Linked DNA regions of Homo sapiens. The protein of the gene in region 1 purifies or fractionates together with the protein of each later gene. This does not show direct contact. Each region holds a gene or a part of one and is shown in the gene's direction. Other genes may lie near its edges.

What was found.
Region 2: the proteins of GOLT1B (region 1) and RTN3 purify together in Homo sapiens (affinity purification with mass spectrometry; 2 studies listed by BioGRID and IntAct, with this or other methods). This does not show direct contact.

Annotation. Positions count from the first base shown.
Region 1 is NC_000012.12:21,504,009-21,512,751, forward strand, and holds part of GOLT1B (vesicle transport protein GOT1B), read left to right. Parts: intron 1-2,876; coding exon 2,877-2,968; intron 2,969-4,374; coding exon 4,375-4,553; intron 4,554-8,286; coding exon 8,287-8,368; intron 8,369-8,743. UniProt on the Homo sapiens protein: May be involved in fusion of ER-derived transport vesicles with the Golgi complex.
Region 2 is NC_000011.10:63,718,905-63,727,647, forward strand, and holds part of RTN3 (reticulon-3), read left to right. Parts: coding exon 1-2,128; intron 2,129-7,245; coding exon of another isoform or gene 7,246-7,262; exon of another isoform or gene 7,263-8,743. UniProt on the Homo sapiens protein: May be involved in membrane trafficking in the early secretory pathway. Inhibits BACE1 activity and amyloid precursor protein processing. May induce caspase-8 cascade and apoptosis.

The DNA of each region.
Region 1 (8,743 bases):
CTTGACTTCTGTTTTTCAAAGGGTATGGTAAGAGAGACAATGCTGCTTTTAAAAAATTGTGAATAAGATATCAAAATGCTAACAGTGTTTGCCATTAGATTATGCGTGTCTTTCCTTATACAATTTCCACAGTATGCTCCTTATGTTAGACAGATTCGTTTTATTAAATTGTTTTTATATTTTTTTTAACTTGTGGACAGTTTTTTAAACATGTGGGAGGAGTGAAGGAAGATAAGTTTGTTTTACTGGATATGATTCCGATGGGAAGAAGGCAGCTCTATGCAAGGCTTTTGATAGCCAGAGGGCTTATGAATGCATACGGATAGGGAAAAGGGGGATCCTGGAGGTGAGAAAAAGGCACAATGAGGCCAATTTGAGACTTTTGACCAGTGTGGATCAGGAGCTACTTGGCAATGTCATTGCCAGTACCAGTTGTGGCAAAGATGTTTTGGGCAATGTCTCCCGCTGGACTGTACTGGATAAAGTAGTGGAATATTTTGGTTCCCATGTTGTAGTTGTAGGACCATTGTCTGTGGAGTGAGAAGACTGGTTGAATGCTGACTTCACAGACTGTTGTACCTGCCTCCATACCACCAGCACCCACACACACATTTTTGCTGCTTCTATGATCAAGAACAAGTTACTGAATTACCTCTAGGTCCATGGTTGCACATATGAACCATAGGACCAGTGCTACCTTTTACCTCACAATTTTGTTAAAGAAATTATAAAATTTTTGTATAAACACTTCATAACACGGTAAACCATACTCAGAGATTGGCCTTTTTGACCGCAGTTAATTTTTAATAGTTCTACTTGGCTATGTTAGATAACAAGCTAATATTAAACTTGAATCCCCTAAAAGATGCGTCCCCCAGAAGTTCAGAATACTCCAGTGTCCTTGAGTTTCATGTAACCAAACACCTTTAACCTAAAAAATAAAAATTCTGTGGGAAGAGGTATGGCATTAATGGTTAAGCACATGAGCTTTGGATTCAAAAGACCTTGGTTCGAATGCTTATCTAGAAGTGTGGCTTTAGGCAACTTAAGTCAACTCTCTAAACTTCAATTTCCTCCATCTTTAAAAAGATGTAATTATACCTGCATTCCAGTAGTATTGGAAGTATTAAGTTATATATAAGGTATGTGAAGCACTTCATAAGGCCTAATTCGTGGTAAATTCTCAGTACATAGTAGGTGTCTTTCCATATACCTTCCTTTCTAAAAACATCTCAGAATTTTTATGTAATCATCAAGGTTATTTGTGAAATGATAGAAATTAGTCATCTTCAACTAACAAAGCTGCCGATGTTTAATCCTAACTACTAAATAGTTATTTAATAGAATTTTACTTGCTCTTTTGTCCATATTTTCCTCTATGAAATTATGTCCACTATCCAAATAGTTAATTTGGTAAATTCTCTTAAGGCCTTTGATCATGAAAGTATCAGCCTCAAATTTTCATAGGAATGTGTGTTGAATTCACTTAACTGGTGTATTTATAGACCAGGTACCTGAATTATTTTAGACTAACTTTGGGAACAAAAGGTGTCTGCAATGGAAGACACTAGTTATCAGGAAATTGAGCAGGTGGGGAATGTAGAAAAAGCTAAAGTTGATAAAAGTTTTCAAGTTATCAGAACATTTTATATGACTTAAGAGTTTTTTAAGTAGCTGTGACCTAGATTTTAGCTTTCTGGAGCTGAGGCAAAAAAGTTAAGCAATAGATCAGAAATCAGTGATAGGGTATTTTAAATTGTGCTTCTAAAAATACGGTGGCTTCTACTCTGACTCATCTGTATGCAGATTGTGCTTCTAACTAAACTACGGATTAATGGCTATTTTCTAGAATCAAAACTAAAATGATCAAGGAGGTAACTTAGTGAATTGTGCTTTATAACATTAATAGAAGAGTACATCTGTCACCTTAGAAGTTAAGACTTTTCATACTAAAAAAATAAGACCTAGAGAATGCACAGTCAATAAAAGTATTAATTTTATATACAAGATAAACATAGACTTTAAAGCTTACACCTCGTCTACCACTGTATATTCAGTACCTGGAACAGTTCCTTGCATCTGGCAGTTGATCAACAATTCTTTGTTTTTTAATGAAACTAATGAAACATGAAAAACCTAGAATATTAATATTAGGTAAAACAGTATTCTTTGAAACTTCGGAGAGGTGATTTTAGGACTCTAGACCAAATATTTAAGTAGATTTATAGTTTAGGTAAATTTGTAGATAAGTCCATAATAAGTAATCAAGAAATTAAAAGTGATGCCTGACCTTCTGAAAATTTGGTTTTGAGAATACTGGTACCATGATTTTCGAAATATTTCTTGTTGCCATTGTGACAAGCAGTATATAATTGGATAAAGGATATTGATTGTGCGGACCTACCATAACATTTCTAATGCAGTAAAGAAGGAATCAATTTTAAGAGGAAGAAAGAACTACAGATATTGTGCATTTAAATAATAATTATAGAATGTGAAAGGAGATAAGTAATTAAGGAAACCTATACATTTATGTCTGATGCGAGAGAGCTTTTCAGGAGGAAAAAAACAAATTACATATTAAAACCAAAGGTTTAGAATCCCGATTTATCTTTTTTATTATAGCTATGTCTGAGAAATGCTATCTCCCATATAAGGCTTAGAAATTTTCATTCATGTTTTAAATTTTGAAATAATTTGCTGATAATTAATTTGTTATAAGAGCTAAATAAATGTCATTATGAAGTTAACCTGCAATGTTGGGTACCTGTTTTCTTATACCTATGAAAGGAAAACTGGAAAATTTTCTTAGTTTACAGGGATGTTAATGTGACTTTAATTTTTCTCTACCCTTAACCATATACCTTATATTGCAGAAATTGGAATGGGATTAACAGGATTTGGAGTGTTTTTCCTGTTCTTTGGAATGATTCTCTTTTTTGACAAAGCACTACTGGCTATTGGAAATGTGAGTTTTTAAATATATATTTTAACTAAATTTATAAGGAAATTTTAACTACGAATGAATTATTATCTGCTATTAAATTTGGGGAAAATAATTCACTATTACTCATAAGTAATTCCTGTTACATTCTCTATTTCCATCAGGAATGAAACCTGTCAGCTTTCTGTTTAAATAAAAGGTAAACACTTAATGAGGTTTTCTAATTCCATAACTACTCTGTTAAGTGTTTGTCATGAGATTTACAATAGATTAAATGAAGGCTGCCTCTAAATAGGAGTTCAAAATAGATGACTTGATAGTTTCATGTCTTGATAAATCACTAAAGTATTTTTACTTTAAACATCCAAGACTTCACATTTGATTCAGCTGCATAAGATAGATTTTTTTAACCTTTTTAAAAATATATATTTCTATGTTAATGGTTGACTTGCTTAGAAAGGGATCTATGTTGTTTATTTGGAATGTGTACTATGCTATTCATGTGTGGAGGTTATGATCCAGAAATAAATAATAACCCTTCTAAGGTAGTGAAGACACTGTATGTGTGTGTGTGTGTATATATATATATACACACACACATATATATTTGGGCTTTTAACTGGAAATGGGAAAAGATAAAGAATAGCAAAATTGTTCAAAATTGATGTCTTAATAAATGATAATAGCATTAGTATCCTAGAATATGAAGCTTAACCATTAGGCTTAATATGTATTTGTGCGAAATATTTTTCACTAAAGAATGTTAATGGGGAGGGCAAGTATTTGGAAAGAAAACCTGGGGAAAGCAAGCTCTTAATCCATCACCATTTCTTGTCCACAGAATACATTCAAAATATTTGAAAACACATGGTTGTATTTTTATTTCTGCTGCCACCAGATATTCTAGAATTTATAAAACTAGAATCTTCTTGGCTTCACGTTGTTTCTTCTGCTATCAACTTAGCCATGTCAATATTTCTCCCATCCATAGAAACTCCTGTAGCCTATGATGAATATTTCAGAACCAAGAGGAATACCCTTGGGTGACATATTTATGGGCAGCTTTCCTCTTTATGCCTTGCCAACTCATCTGCTTGACTAAGCCTTCCTCATCCAGCTAAAACTAGGAAAACTACTGCAGACACAGATGCCCCTTGGTAACGTCTAATCTTTCTTTGTTTCTCTTTTTCTCCATTTAATCAAGATAGAAGAGGAATGAGACAAGTGGAACAAAGCTACAACTTTAAAATGCATAACCCACTCCTTGGTTCTGCTGCTTGGTTGTACATTACAGTTCTGTCTGGCCAGTTGCCCACATTAAAAGCCAAACAAATGTGCTTCTTTTTTTATATTTAGCTTTGACTTTACGTTTAAAATTTATGCATTGTGTTTAATTACCTTTTCCGTGTTGTATTTTCTTTCTCTTTTAGGTTTTATTTGTAGCCGGCTTGGCTTTTGTAATTGGTTTAGAAAGAACATTCAGATTCTTCTTCCAAAAACATAAAATGAAAGCTACAGGTTTTTTTCTGGGTGGTGTATTTGTAGTCCTTATTGGTTGGCCTTTGATAGGCATGATCTTCGAAATTTATGGATTTTTTCTCTTGTTCAGGTAAGGCATATTATTGTCTCTTTCAGTAAATCAGTGTGTCAGATAGTTAGTACAAAAACTCAGATATTTGCATCAGTTGGAGTAAGATGATGATCATTTCCTTAAATGGAATTTTATTTAGGTTGAATCTTATAGATTTAGATGAAGCAACTATAAAAATGTTTTATCACATGTGAATGATTGCCTAATGGTATAAATTATCTTGTTTTGTCAGCACAATAAAGTTTATTTTATTGGCATTTTAAGGCACCATCTTTATGTTGGATATTTGTATCAACTAAATAGTGGTAGGTAGGTCGGTCGATCGATCAATCGGTAGGTAGGTAGGTAGATAGATAGATAGATAGATAGATAGATAGATCCAGCATTTTGGTGTGTAGAATCTTATACTTCATAGCTACTGCTACTTGATGGAAATTTATTTAGCACATATACGTATTAGAAGATTGTTTACCAAATACACTACTATGGGAGATTTTGAGCAGGTAATATTTTGTAAATGCCAGTTAGCAGATAAACAATAGTATGTGTATATATCTATATGAAAATACCTTTGGCCAGGTGCGGTGGCTCACACCTGTAATCCCAGCACTTTGGGAGGCCGAGGTGGGCGGATCACCTGAGGTCAGGAGGTCAAGACCAGCCTGGCCAGCATGATGAAACCCCGTCTCTACTAAAAATTCAAAAATTAGCTGGCCATGCTGGCAGGCGCCTGTAATCCTAGCTACTCGGGAGGCTGAGGCAGGCGAATTGTTTGAACCTGGGAGGCGGAAGTTGCAGTGAGCCGATCACACCATTGCACTCCAGCCTAGGCAATAGAGCGAGACTCTGTCTCAAAAAAAAAAAAAAAAAAAAAAAAAAAACAGAAAAGAAAATAACTTTAAGTAGGGTTGAGCTTAATTATTTATTCCAGAAATGCATATCCTTTGTCTTCTGTCTGCCAGGCACTGTATTACCCACAGGAGACATAAAAATAAATTAAGTACCAAATCTGCTTTAGAAAATCTCTCATTTCTATTATGGAAAGTAGACTCTAAAAATACCAATAGGATATAGTCATAATGCCATTATAAATGTGTATGCAGAATATTGTGGAAGCATGATTAAAAAATTAGTAAATTCAAGGAGAGGTGAGAAATGTTAACTGATAAACTGGGCTTTGAAGAATGGGTAAGAATTTATCCTATAAACGAGAAAGGGAACGACAGTTAACAGAAGGAACAGACAGGGCCATAAAAACACACAGCTTGTTCTGAAAAGAATGAATACTCTTATAGAACAGGAGCATGTGATCAGTTGAAGGAAATGGTTGGTAATGAAACTGAAAATGAAGCCTGGAGCCAGGTTACAAACTTTCTTTGATGACTTGTTGAGAAAAGTATACCTTATCCTGTAACCAAATTTGGGCTGGGGGAGCAGTGTTTGGAGAAGGTCGGGGGAGTGGGGCACAGAGGTTTTTAAGCCAGAGGTGGTACAACAGGGTAGATGTTTTAGGAAGGTTGTTCTGATATCAGGATAAAGTAGGTATTAAAGAGAAAAACTGAAGTCAGGGGAGCCAGTCAAGAGGCGGTTAATACAGTACAGAATATACAGTGATAAGACTGGAATCTTGGAGTACTTTTGACATTTTAGGGTAGGTGGAGAAAAAGAAGAAAACACTAGAAGAGACTAGGAAAAGAGGTGGGAGAAGAACTAGGAGTAAAGATCATAGTGGCTAAGAGAGAAAAGAGTGAAGAAGAGTTTGTTTTGGCAGATGTATCTTGCAGCAGAAAACTTAAGCACCTTAAGAAGTAAGAAAATCATTGGCTTTCCCAGTTATGTGGGGGTTTTAGTAATGAAGGTTAAAAGCCAAAGCTGATCTTTGAGATGAATAAAAAATGGGAAGTCTTAGTATCATCGACAAGCTTGGAGTAATACACAGGTTTCGTGGTTTAGAGAGCTTTGTGGTATAAATACTAGTTTTTGTTGTTGGGTTTTGTTGTGTTCTGAGATATTCTGAGCTGGAGATTTAGTGCCAAGGGTCTTTGATGTTGTTTTTCTAGATATTTATAACCCTAAATAATGGCATTTGAAATCACACATTTTTATGTTTTAAAACAATACTTAAAACAAAATAAATGATCTTTTGAATTCATTACTACTAGAAAATGATTGTGATTTTCTTTGAAACACGCACATACACCATCAACATAAATACTTGTCTAATTTAAAAATTCTGCTTTCTGTTTAATTCTTTATTTTGACTTCTGCAGATCCATAACAGAATCTTATTGCTTAACTTCTGAATTGTATTCATTGTAGTATTTTCATCCCTATCTAACTCTGTGAAGAAAACAGCTTTTTTTCTGTACTCGTCTTACCACAATCAACACAGAAGACTGCTGTGACCAAATGGGTGGGGGGTTTTCCCGATATCGCAATCAGTTAGTTGTCTGCAACAGACAACAGCTGGGTGTCCTCCCAATATAGTTCTGATACTGTCTACATGGAGATAGCTCCAGATCACACAGGTTGAGGGCTCAGTCCCACAACTGTCCTCCACTCCCAATGATGCCAGCCACAAGCCCCAGGTTGTTTTACCCATGCTTCTGACTGATCAGCTCTAAGTTGGGGTTCCCACGATCCCCTGTTTGGATCAGACTAATTTACTAGAGAGGCTCACAGAGCTCAAGGAAACACTGATGTTTACTAGTTTATTATAAAGGATATTACAAAGGATACAAATAAAGAGATGCATAGGGCAAGGAAAGGGGGGAGGGTCGCAGATCCCCCCCCACCCTCCCCAACCCACCATCCTCCAAGAACATCCTTGTGTTCAGCTATCCGGAAGCTCCCTGAACACTGTCCTTTTGGGTTTTTATGGAGGCTTCATTACTAGGCATGATTGATTAAATTATTGGCCATGAGTGACCAGCTTCACAGCCCCCCTCCCCTTCGTGGAGGTTAGGAGGTAGGGCTCAGATTTCCAGCCCTCTAATCTTGCCTTGGTCTTTCTGGTGACCAGCCCCCATCCTGAAGCTGCCTAGGGGCTGCCAACCATTGATGATAACTCATTAGTATACAAAAAGACATCACCTTGTAGAGACTCTTAAGTATTTTAGGAGTTGTAAGCCAGAAAATGAGGTCAAAGACCAAATATATATTTCACAGTATCACTACATATTTTAAGACCCAGGAAAAGTTTAGTTTCTTTGCATTTTTAAAATAAACTATTTCATTCTCTTCCTATACTGAGGTAGCTTAACTGATCTACTGTCAATTTTAAACTGGTTAGAAGCTGTTTAACTTCTGTAGACTTGTATTTCTACCAAGAAAGAATGAGACATACTGTGAGGATCAGTATCTGGCAGGTAGTCTCTTAGTGTTAACTAAATGTTTTGACCCTTAGTACTTACTTAGTAAATGATAGCTATTATTATTTTCATGGTTCTACACATATGGTCTCAACAGCCCCTTTCTTTTTATCAGTTTCACCCCACACAACTCATAGTTGGAGAAATCTTCAGCAGTTGAGCTAACTCATAATCTGAGTTATATATAGCTAGGCCTCATGTACTTGTCACATTTTTACCAACAATCACAAAATTTTTAATTAAGTTTGTAGTTATTTCTAAGTTTGAAGACCCTCAATTATTCAGAATTTTAACAGGATACTTTCTTTTTCCTTGGTTAGCAATTATTTTGAAAATAGAAAATGTGTAAATATTAAGAACCTTTTTTTTCCCTCTCCCAGGGGCTTCTTTCCTGTCGTTGTTGGCTTTATTAGAAGAGTGCCAGTCCTTGGATCCCTCCTAAATTTACCTGGAATTAGATCAGTAAGTAATCATGTATATTTTAGGCCAACAAAATACGTATTTTGATGCTTTTTACTTCTAGAAATTTGAGTAATTGATACTTGGTTAATTGCTGAGTTTTGTATTATGATATAGTTACTTCACATAGATCATGAGTACCATGAAGACCAAAAAATAATTATTGCTAAACCTATAAAATGTGAAATTTTGTTTTACCGTATCCATTTCTGGATCCATATTCTCTATTTTTTAATGTTACTCAGATTTGATATGCTATGCTACCTTTCTCTTTGAGAGTTCAGGGCATTTTTTATTTAACTTTTATATAATCTCTAATTTTAGAAGCAATAATGTAAAAAGGAAACCATTATTTCCTACAAATATTTTGTTTCTCAG
Region 2 (8,743 bases), on another chromosome or scaffold:
GGGACCAGCAACAACGTATCAGACTCTTCAGTTTCTCTTGCAGCAGGAGTTCATTGTGACCGTCCTTCTATTCCAGCCAGTTTCCCAGAGCATCCTGCTTTTCTCTCAAAGAAAATTGGTCAAGTGGAAGAGCAAATAGATAAAGAGACCAAGAACCCAAATGGGGTATCAAGTAGGGAGGCTAAAACTGCATTGGATGCTGATGACAGATTCACTTTGCTGACAGCCCAGAAACCACCTACTGAGTACTCTAAGGTAGAAGGCATTTATACATATTCTTTGTCTCCATCCAAAGTTTCAGGAGATGATGTTATTGAAAAGGATTCCCCTGAATCACCATTTGAAGTAATTATTGACAAAGCAGCATTTGACAAAGAATTTAAAGACTCATATAAGGAGAGCACAGATGATTTTGGTAGCTGGTCTGTGCACACTGATAAAGAATCATCCGAAGACATTTCAGAGACTAATGACAAGCTTTTTCCACTGAGAAATAAAGAGGCAGGACGTTACCCAATGTCTGCATTGCTCAGTAGGCAGTTTTCACACACAAATGCAGCACTGGAAGAGGTGTCCAGATGCGTGAATGATATGCATAACTTTACTAACGAAATACTGACTTGGGATCTGGTTCCCCAAGTGAAACAACAGACCGATAAATCTTCTGACTGCATCACAAAAACTACAGGACTTGACATGAGTGAATATAATTCAGAAATTCCAGTTGTAAATCTTAAAACTAGCACTCATCAGAAAACTCCTGTATGTTCTATTGATGGGAGCACTCCCATCACTAAATCAACAGGTGATTGGGCAGAAGCATCTCTCCAGCAAGAAAATGCTATTACTGGAAAACCTGTACCTGACTCTTTGAATTCCACAAAAGAATTCAGTATCAAAGGTGTGCAAGGCAATATGCAGAAACAGGATGACACACTTGCAGAATTACCTGGATCTCCACCTGAGAAATGTGACTCTTTGGGTTCTGGAGTGGCCACAGTGAAAGTGGTTTTACCTGATGACCACCTGAAAGATGAAATGGACTGGCAGAGCTCTGCATTGGGAGAAATCACAGAAGCTGATAGTTCTGGTGAGTCTGATGACACAGTAATAGAGGACATCACAGCAGATACATCATTTGAAAATAACAAAATTCAGGCTGAAAAACCTGTTTCCATTCCAAGTGCTGTTGTAAAAACAGGTGAAAGAGAAATCAAAGAGATTCCCAGTTGTGAGAGAGAAGAAAAAACATCTAAAAACTTTGAAGAATTGGTCAGTGACTCTGAGCTGCATCAAGATCAGCCTGATATTCTTGGAAGGAGTCCAGCTAGTGAGGCAGCATGTTCAAAAGTACCCGATACGAATGTCTCCTTAGAAGATGTGAGTGAAGTTGCTCCTGAAAAGCCTATTACTACTGAGAACCCCAAACTTCCTTCAACAGTGTCTCCAAATGTTTTTAATGAGACAGAATTCTCATTAAATGTGACAACATCTGCCTATTTGGAGTCATTACATGGGAAAAATGTTAAACATATAGATGATTCCTCCCCAGAGGACCTGATAGCAGCCTTTACAGAAACCAGAGATAAAGGAATAGTAGATAGTGAAAGAAATGCTTTTAAAGCAATATCAGAGAAGATGACAGACTTTAAAACAACTCCTCCTGTAGAAGTCTTACATGAAAATGAGTCCGGTGGTTCTGAAATTAAAGACATTGGAAGCAAATACAGTGAACAAAGCAAAGAAACAAATGGAAGTGAGCCTCTAGGTGTTTTCCCTACCCAAGGTACTCCAGTAGCATCTCTTGACTTAGAACAAGAACAGCTCACAATTAAGGCTCTTAAAGAATTAGGTGAAAGACAGGTTGAGAAGTCAACTTCTGCACAGCGTGACGCAGAATTGCCTTCTGAAGAAGTACTGAAGCAAACTTTCACATTTGCTCCAGAATCTTGGCCACAGAGATCATATGACATCCTAGAACGTAATGTCAAGAATGGATCTGATCTTGGGATTTCCCAGAAGCCCATCACTATCAGAGAAACTACTAGGGTAGATGCTGTTTCCAGCCTTAGCAAGACTGAATTGGTAAAAAAGCATGTCCTAGCAAGACTTCTGACAGACTTCTCAGGTAACCATTTATATTAGAATACTGCATGTGGTTAATTCTGTGATTGATTACTTATCAGCGTGCCATTTATGTTAGTCTGATTTATACCTACAAAATTATGGCTAAAATACAAAAACAATATGCTGTATGATGGGAAAGGCAGATTCTTCTCCTGTCTTTTTTTAAATGATTGCTTGATTTGGTTTCCTTAATATCAATATTTCCCAAAGCAGTAGACCACTTTGTAACATTAATCTTCCCCTAAATATTTTTTCTATGCTCGCTGGGTACGGTGGCTCACGCCTATAATCCCAGCACTTTGGGAGGCCGAGACGGGCGGATCACAAGGTCAGGAGATTGAGACCATCCTGGCTAACACGGTGAAACCCCGTCTCTACTAAAAATACAGAAAAATTAGCTGGACGTGGTGGCGGGCGCCTGTAGTCCCAGCTGCTTGGGAGGCTGAGGCAGGAGAATGGCGTAAACCCGGGAGGCAGAGCTTGCAGTGAGATGAGATCGCGCCAGTACACTCCAGCCTGGGTGACAGAGCAAGACTCTGTCTCAAAAAAAAAAAAAAAAAGAAAATTTTTTTTCTATGCTCCAGTTATATTTCAAGGTACTTCTTTTCTTATAGGTTGCCCCTAAGGTGATATTAGGTGAGAATCTAATATCATCAGGTTCTTACTTATTTACAAAGCTTGTTTTTAAATCTCCATAATTGTCATACTTTTTAGCACTTGGATTTTTTGATATGTGCTTTGTGGAATCTTAGCAATCAAAGATAAAGGAATTCCTGCTGGGAAAGATAGTAAATGAAACTTTTAATTAATGTGATCGTATACTATAGAGATTTTATGCTCTGAAAGTAGGTAACCAGTATTGTAGTACTATTTTGTGAGTAATGCTTAGGAGAACTCATGCATTCTTCTACTTTCTATCTTATTTAATATTCTTCAGGCCAAAACTCATTATTAGATGGTACCAGAAACCCCTTCTCTTGTCTTTTATCTATTTCAAATGATCACTTTTCTAGCAAGTGGCTTTCAGTTAGATTACTGCAAATGCTGTCTATTCTGGGATCTTGGAAAGTACAAGAAAAAAAAAGGATCTTTCAAGCCCCTCTACAAGGGACCCCCATCCTTTAATGTAATACCAAGTTTTACATCTACTGTATGGTCAGTGTTAGGTGCTATGTAGAGGTCTGTGGTTTTTAAACTATTTGATTATAGATCTTTTATCAAATGAAATCATACACAGAGTTGTAGTATTTACAAGAAAATTAGATTTTTGTTAGGCTAAATGTATTTTGTGTTTGATTTTGTGCCTTTTTATAAAGGCATTTTCTTACTGGAAACTGTAGGTAGATTTATCTTTTTAAGTTTTAATATTTAAAATAGATAAATTGTACTTAACCTTACAATGGTATTGTGAGGATTAAATATGAAAATGCAGGTAATACAGTGCCTAGCACATAGTAAATATGCAGTCAGATTTAGCACCAAATACAGGGCCTGCCACATAAGTAGTACTGGATAATTATTTGTTGAATGAATGATATGAATTATTTCACTAACAATTATCAGTGAAAGACATTGAGGCTTTTTGATAAACCAAAAATTTTGAATTACCAATTAAGGATAGCTCTTATACTCTAGCATTTGAAGCTCACTGAATTTGGATTAAAGAGTACTAGGTTCTAATTCTTGCTGTGCTGTGTCTAGAAGTATGACTTTGAACAAGTAACTTACATAACCTTTCGGGGGCCTCAGTTTTAATATCTGTAAAGTGAGGATGTAAAGTGAAGTAGATGGTCTTCAATTATCATTTAAATAATATGATTCTCTGGCTCTGGTACATTCTAGATTTCTTCCTCAGTTGTCATAATTCTTACAGGTAGTAACTTTTGGGCAATAAGGCATATAGGAATTATGCTACAAGAACTCCAGTGTCTAATTCTGGCAAATTCCTGTTTTAGCATGACCTTAGATGACTAGTCTAATTGGTTCAGCATCTTCCTTTGTTAATGTGATGATCATTATTTTGCCCTGCTTTGTATGTTGCAGTAAATAAAGTGCTGTGTAAATGCTAATTATTAGTGATTATCAACTGAATTATTTAATCTAGCGTGAGAGATGTAAAGGGCTATGGAAGTTCAGGATATTTGTCACTGACCAAAGTCTATGATTAGTGTATGTTTTTAGATTGTAATTAAAGAAGACCGGTATAGTTAGACCAAGAAGTTTAAAGGCCTTTCTTGCAGCTTTCAAAAGTGAAAACCTTTTAAAATTGTCTTATTTATGAATAAATCTTTAAAAATATAATCCATTTCATTGCAGTGAAATAAATAAATAAAAACATAAACCATTTCAGTAAAATGCATCAGTGTCTAGTTTTATTTATTTATCTTTTTTTTTTTTTTTTTAATTTTTTGAGACAGAGTCTCACTCTGTTGCCCAGGCTGGAGTGCAGTGGCGCGATCTCGGCTCACTGCAACCTCCACCTCCAGGGTTCAAGCGACTCTCCTGCCTCAGCCTTCCGAGTAGCTGGGATTACAGGCGTGTGCCACCACGCCCAGCTAATTTTTTGTATTTTTACTAGAGATGGGGTTTCACCATGTTGGCCAGGCTGGTCTCTCAAACTCCTGGCTTCAAGTGATCCGCCTGCGTTGGCCTCTCAAAGTGCTGGGATTTACAGGCCTGAGCCACCACACACAGCCGATTGTCTAGTTTTAAATACGTGTATCTGCATATTCTTCCTTTCTAAGGTAAAAACAGTGCTTTAATTATATTCTGCCTTAAGTTGTTTGGGAAAATAGGCAAAAGAAACAATGAAAGAATTAGTGGTTTTCTGTTTGTTTTTGCTATTTTATGGTATATTATGTAACAGCTTGTAATGAAGCCTTTATCATATTATAGTTGGTTGCTGAGTAATTAAGTTATGATAGACTCTCATAGTTTGGGGAAGAAAATCAGATCCCTGCCTCTCACATACCTAGTGTAGTGAAGATAGTTTTTTGTGTTTTAGTATCCAGATTGGCAGGATGCAAGGAAATAAGCATATAGTTTGGTGAAGTACATGTAAATTGTTACAGCCTTTCTGGAAGGCAGTTGGCAATATGTAACAGACCTAGAACTGCCCTAGCAATCTTGTTTTTAGGAATTCTTTTTTTTTTTTTTTTTTTTTTTTTTTGAGACAGAGTCTCGCTCTGTCGCCCAGGCTGGAGTGCAGTGGCGCAATCTCGGCTCACTGCAAGCTCTGCCTCCCGGGTTCACGCCATTCTCCTGCCTCAGCCTCCCGAGTAGCTGGGATTACGGGCGCCTGCTACCACGCCCGGCTAATTTTTTGTATTTTTTAGTACAGACGGGGTTTCACCATGTTAGCCAGGATGGCCTCAATCTCCTGACCTGGTGATCTGCCCACCTCGGCCTCCCAAAGTGCTGGGATTACAGGCGTGAGCCACCCGTGCCCGGCCCTTTTTTTTTTTTTTTTTTTTTTTTAAAGACAGAGTCTCACCGTGTTGCCCAGGCTGGAGTGCAATGGCACGATCTCGGGTCACTGCAACCTCCACCTCCCGGGTTCAAGCGATTCTCCTGCCTCAGCCTCCCAAGTAGCTGGGATTACAGGTGCCTGCCACCACGCCCGGCTAATTTTTTGTATTATTAGTAAAGACGGAGTTTCACTATATTGGCCAGGCTGGTCTCGAACTCCTGACCTCGTGATCCGCCCGCCTTGGCTTCCCAAAATACTGAGATTACAGGCGTGAGCCACGGAACCCAGCTGGAATTTATCCTTTTTTAAAAATGTGCAAAAATAACTACACAGATGTTCATTATAGCACAGTTTATGATAGTGGCAGATATCTCGGTGTCTTAACAATTAGAGATTGGTTGAGTATATTATGGTATAACTGTGCAATCGAATATTACACAGTCATTGAAGTTGTTAAAGTTTTGTTTTTTTTTTTTTTAAGAAATGGAAAAATATAGAAAAGTACAAAGGCAGCCTACACCCATATCTTCTCTATATGTAGAATTAACTTATGTTAATTGTTAGCATTGGTAGTCATATTTGCTTCCAAACTAAAGGACTCTTTGATTACCACCTGGCCACGCCCTCCATCTCCCCTTCCCCAGACGTAACACCGTCATGGACCTGGTACATCCTTCCAGTTTATTTTAAATAAATGTGTTTGTATTGTTTTATGCTTTTTAACCATTCATTCATGTTATCATGTTTGTTGTATAACGTTTTCCATTCAACATTAGGTTTTTAAACTTCTTTCATGTTGGAATTTATATAATTTATTCATTTTAACAGCTATGTAGTAATCCATTATATGAATATATTATTTTCTTTTGGTAAGGATTTAGATTCTTTCCTATTTTTTGCTATTATAGACAGCGCTGAAGTTAACATTCTTCTTTTTTTTTTTCCTTTTTCTTTTTCTTTTTTGAGATGGAGGAGTTTCACTCTGTCGCCCAGGCTGGAGTGCAGTGGTGCAATCTCCGCTCACTGCAAGCTCCGCCTCCCGGGTTCATGCCATTCTCCCGCCTCAGCCTCCTGAGTAGCTGGGACTACAGGCGCCTGCTACCACGCCCAGCTAATTTTATTTTTGTATTTTTAGTAGAGTCGGGGTTTCACTGTGTTAGCCAGGATGGTCTCAATCTCCTGGCCTCGTGATCCGCCCGCCTCGGCCTCCCAAAGTGCTGGAATTACAGGCATGAGCCACCGCGCCCGGCCTTAAGTTAACGTTGTTATACTTGTCTGTTTTTACACATATGTGACTATTTCCCCAGCGTTAGGGTGCTACTGCTTATCAGTTTCACTTCTAGCTCTGTGCCTTATTTTTCTAGTTACTGTCAAAGTTAGTGTCTTCTGTTATGTAAAAATGTTCGTAATTTATTAGTAAAAACTACATTGTTCAGCACCCAGCAGATGGTGGGTGCTAAAGTGGAATGAAAAGAGTTACCAAACAAGGAATACAAAATAATTCCTATCTTGGTATCATTTAAAGTGAATCTATGCTAGAAAGATTCCATAAAGAAAAAAAATGAATCTATATACCTACATATACAGGGAATCTGAAGTAATTTTTAAAAGCAATGTCAGAATGGTTTTCTTTTCTTATGGCCAAGTAGGCTTTTACTGGACCTGACCTTCCTGCATATAACTGGACAAAATTTTTAAAAAACAAAGACCCGAAGGCACTGGAGGATGAACGGGAGCAGTCAGATTCTGAAAGAGAGTTGACACATGTAAGAAGAGACAGCATGAAATTAGTTTTTTATTTTTACTGCTTTTAGCTAGAGGACAGGCTGAAGTGGGCACCTGACAGGCTGGCTTAAACCTTCATAGAAAACCTAAGCAGTGGACAGCATTTGGGTCAGCCACAACCACTGAGTCAGTGGAATGTAAGGGGAGGAGGAATCTTGGAAGGGAGAGATCCAGAGAGTGACAGCCTAAAATTCTGTAGATAAAATAAACTGTGTTTAAGCCTCTGTTTAATTGTAAACCACACTTAACACAAAAGATTATAAGCAGCACAACTAGAGATGAAAGAAGTGAACTGGGCCGGGTGCAATGGCCCACGCCTGTAATCCCAGCACTTTGGGAGGCCAAGGCGGGTGGATCACGAGATCAGGAGTTCAAGACCAGCCTGGTCAAGCTGGTGAAACCCCATCTCTACTAAAAATACAAAAATTAGCCGGGCACATTGGCAGGCGCCTGTAATCCCACCTACTCAGGTGGCTGAGGCAGGAGAATCGCTTGAACCCCTGGGGGTGGAGGTTGCAGTGAGCCAAGATCATGCCATTGCACTACAGCCTGGGTGACAGAGTAAGACTCCGTCTGAAAAAAAAAAAAAAAAAGAAGAAGTGAGCCGAGTTTGTAGTTTGAAGGCCAGGCACAGTGGCTCATGCCTGTAATCCCAGTACTTCAGGAGGCTGAAGCAGGTGGATCACTTGAGCCCAAGAGTTCAAGGCCAGCCTGGGCAGCATGGTGAAACCCCATCTCCACTAAAAAATACAAAATTAAGCCAGGCATGGTGGCCTGTGCCTGTAGTCCCTGAGCCCAGGGAGGTCAGGGGTGCAGATCGCACCACTGCACTCCAGCCTGGGTGACAGAGTAAGACTCTATCTTGAAAAAAAAAGTTTGCAGTTTGAATCTAACCAAATTTATTACATGTTAAAACAAAAGTAATGATACTCTCCAGAGGAATAGAACACAGTCTGGAATTTGTACAGCATAATATTCACAATGTCCAGGATATAATCCAAAACTACATGTTTTAAGAACCAAGAAATTATAACTCAGTCTGAAGAAAAAGAGACAATCGATAGAAACTAACTGCATGTGTTGGAATTAGGAGTCAGGATTTTAAGGGTTTTCATTTTAATCACTCAAAGAAGTAAAGGGAAATATTCTTGTATTGAATAAAAAAGAAAATCTCAACCTAGAAATCGAAACAAAAAAGAGTCAGGTGGGGATTCTAGAACTGTAAAATATAACCACTGAAATTAAAATTCAGCAGGTGACCTTAACAGCAAAATGGAGATGACAGGGGAAGAAGCTGGTGAACTTGATAGCATACTAAAGAACAGAAAGAACACATATTTTTTAAAAGTGTCACCAGAGCTT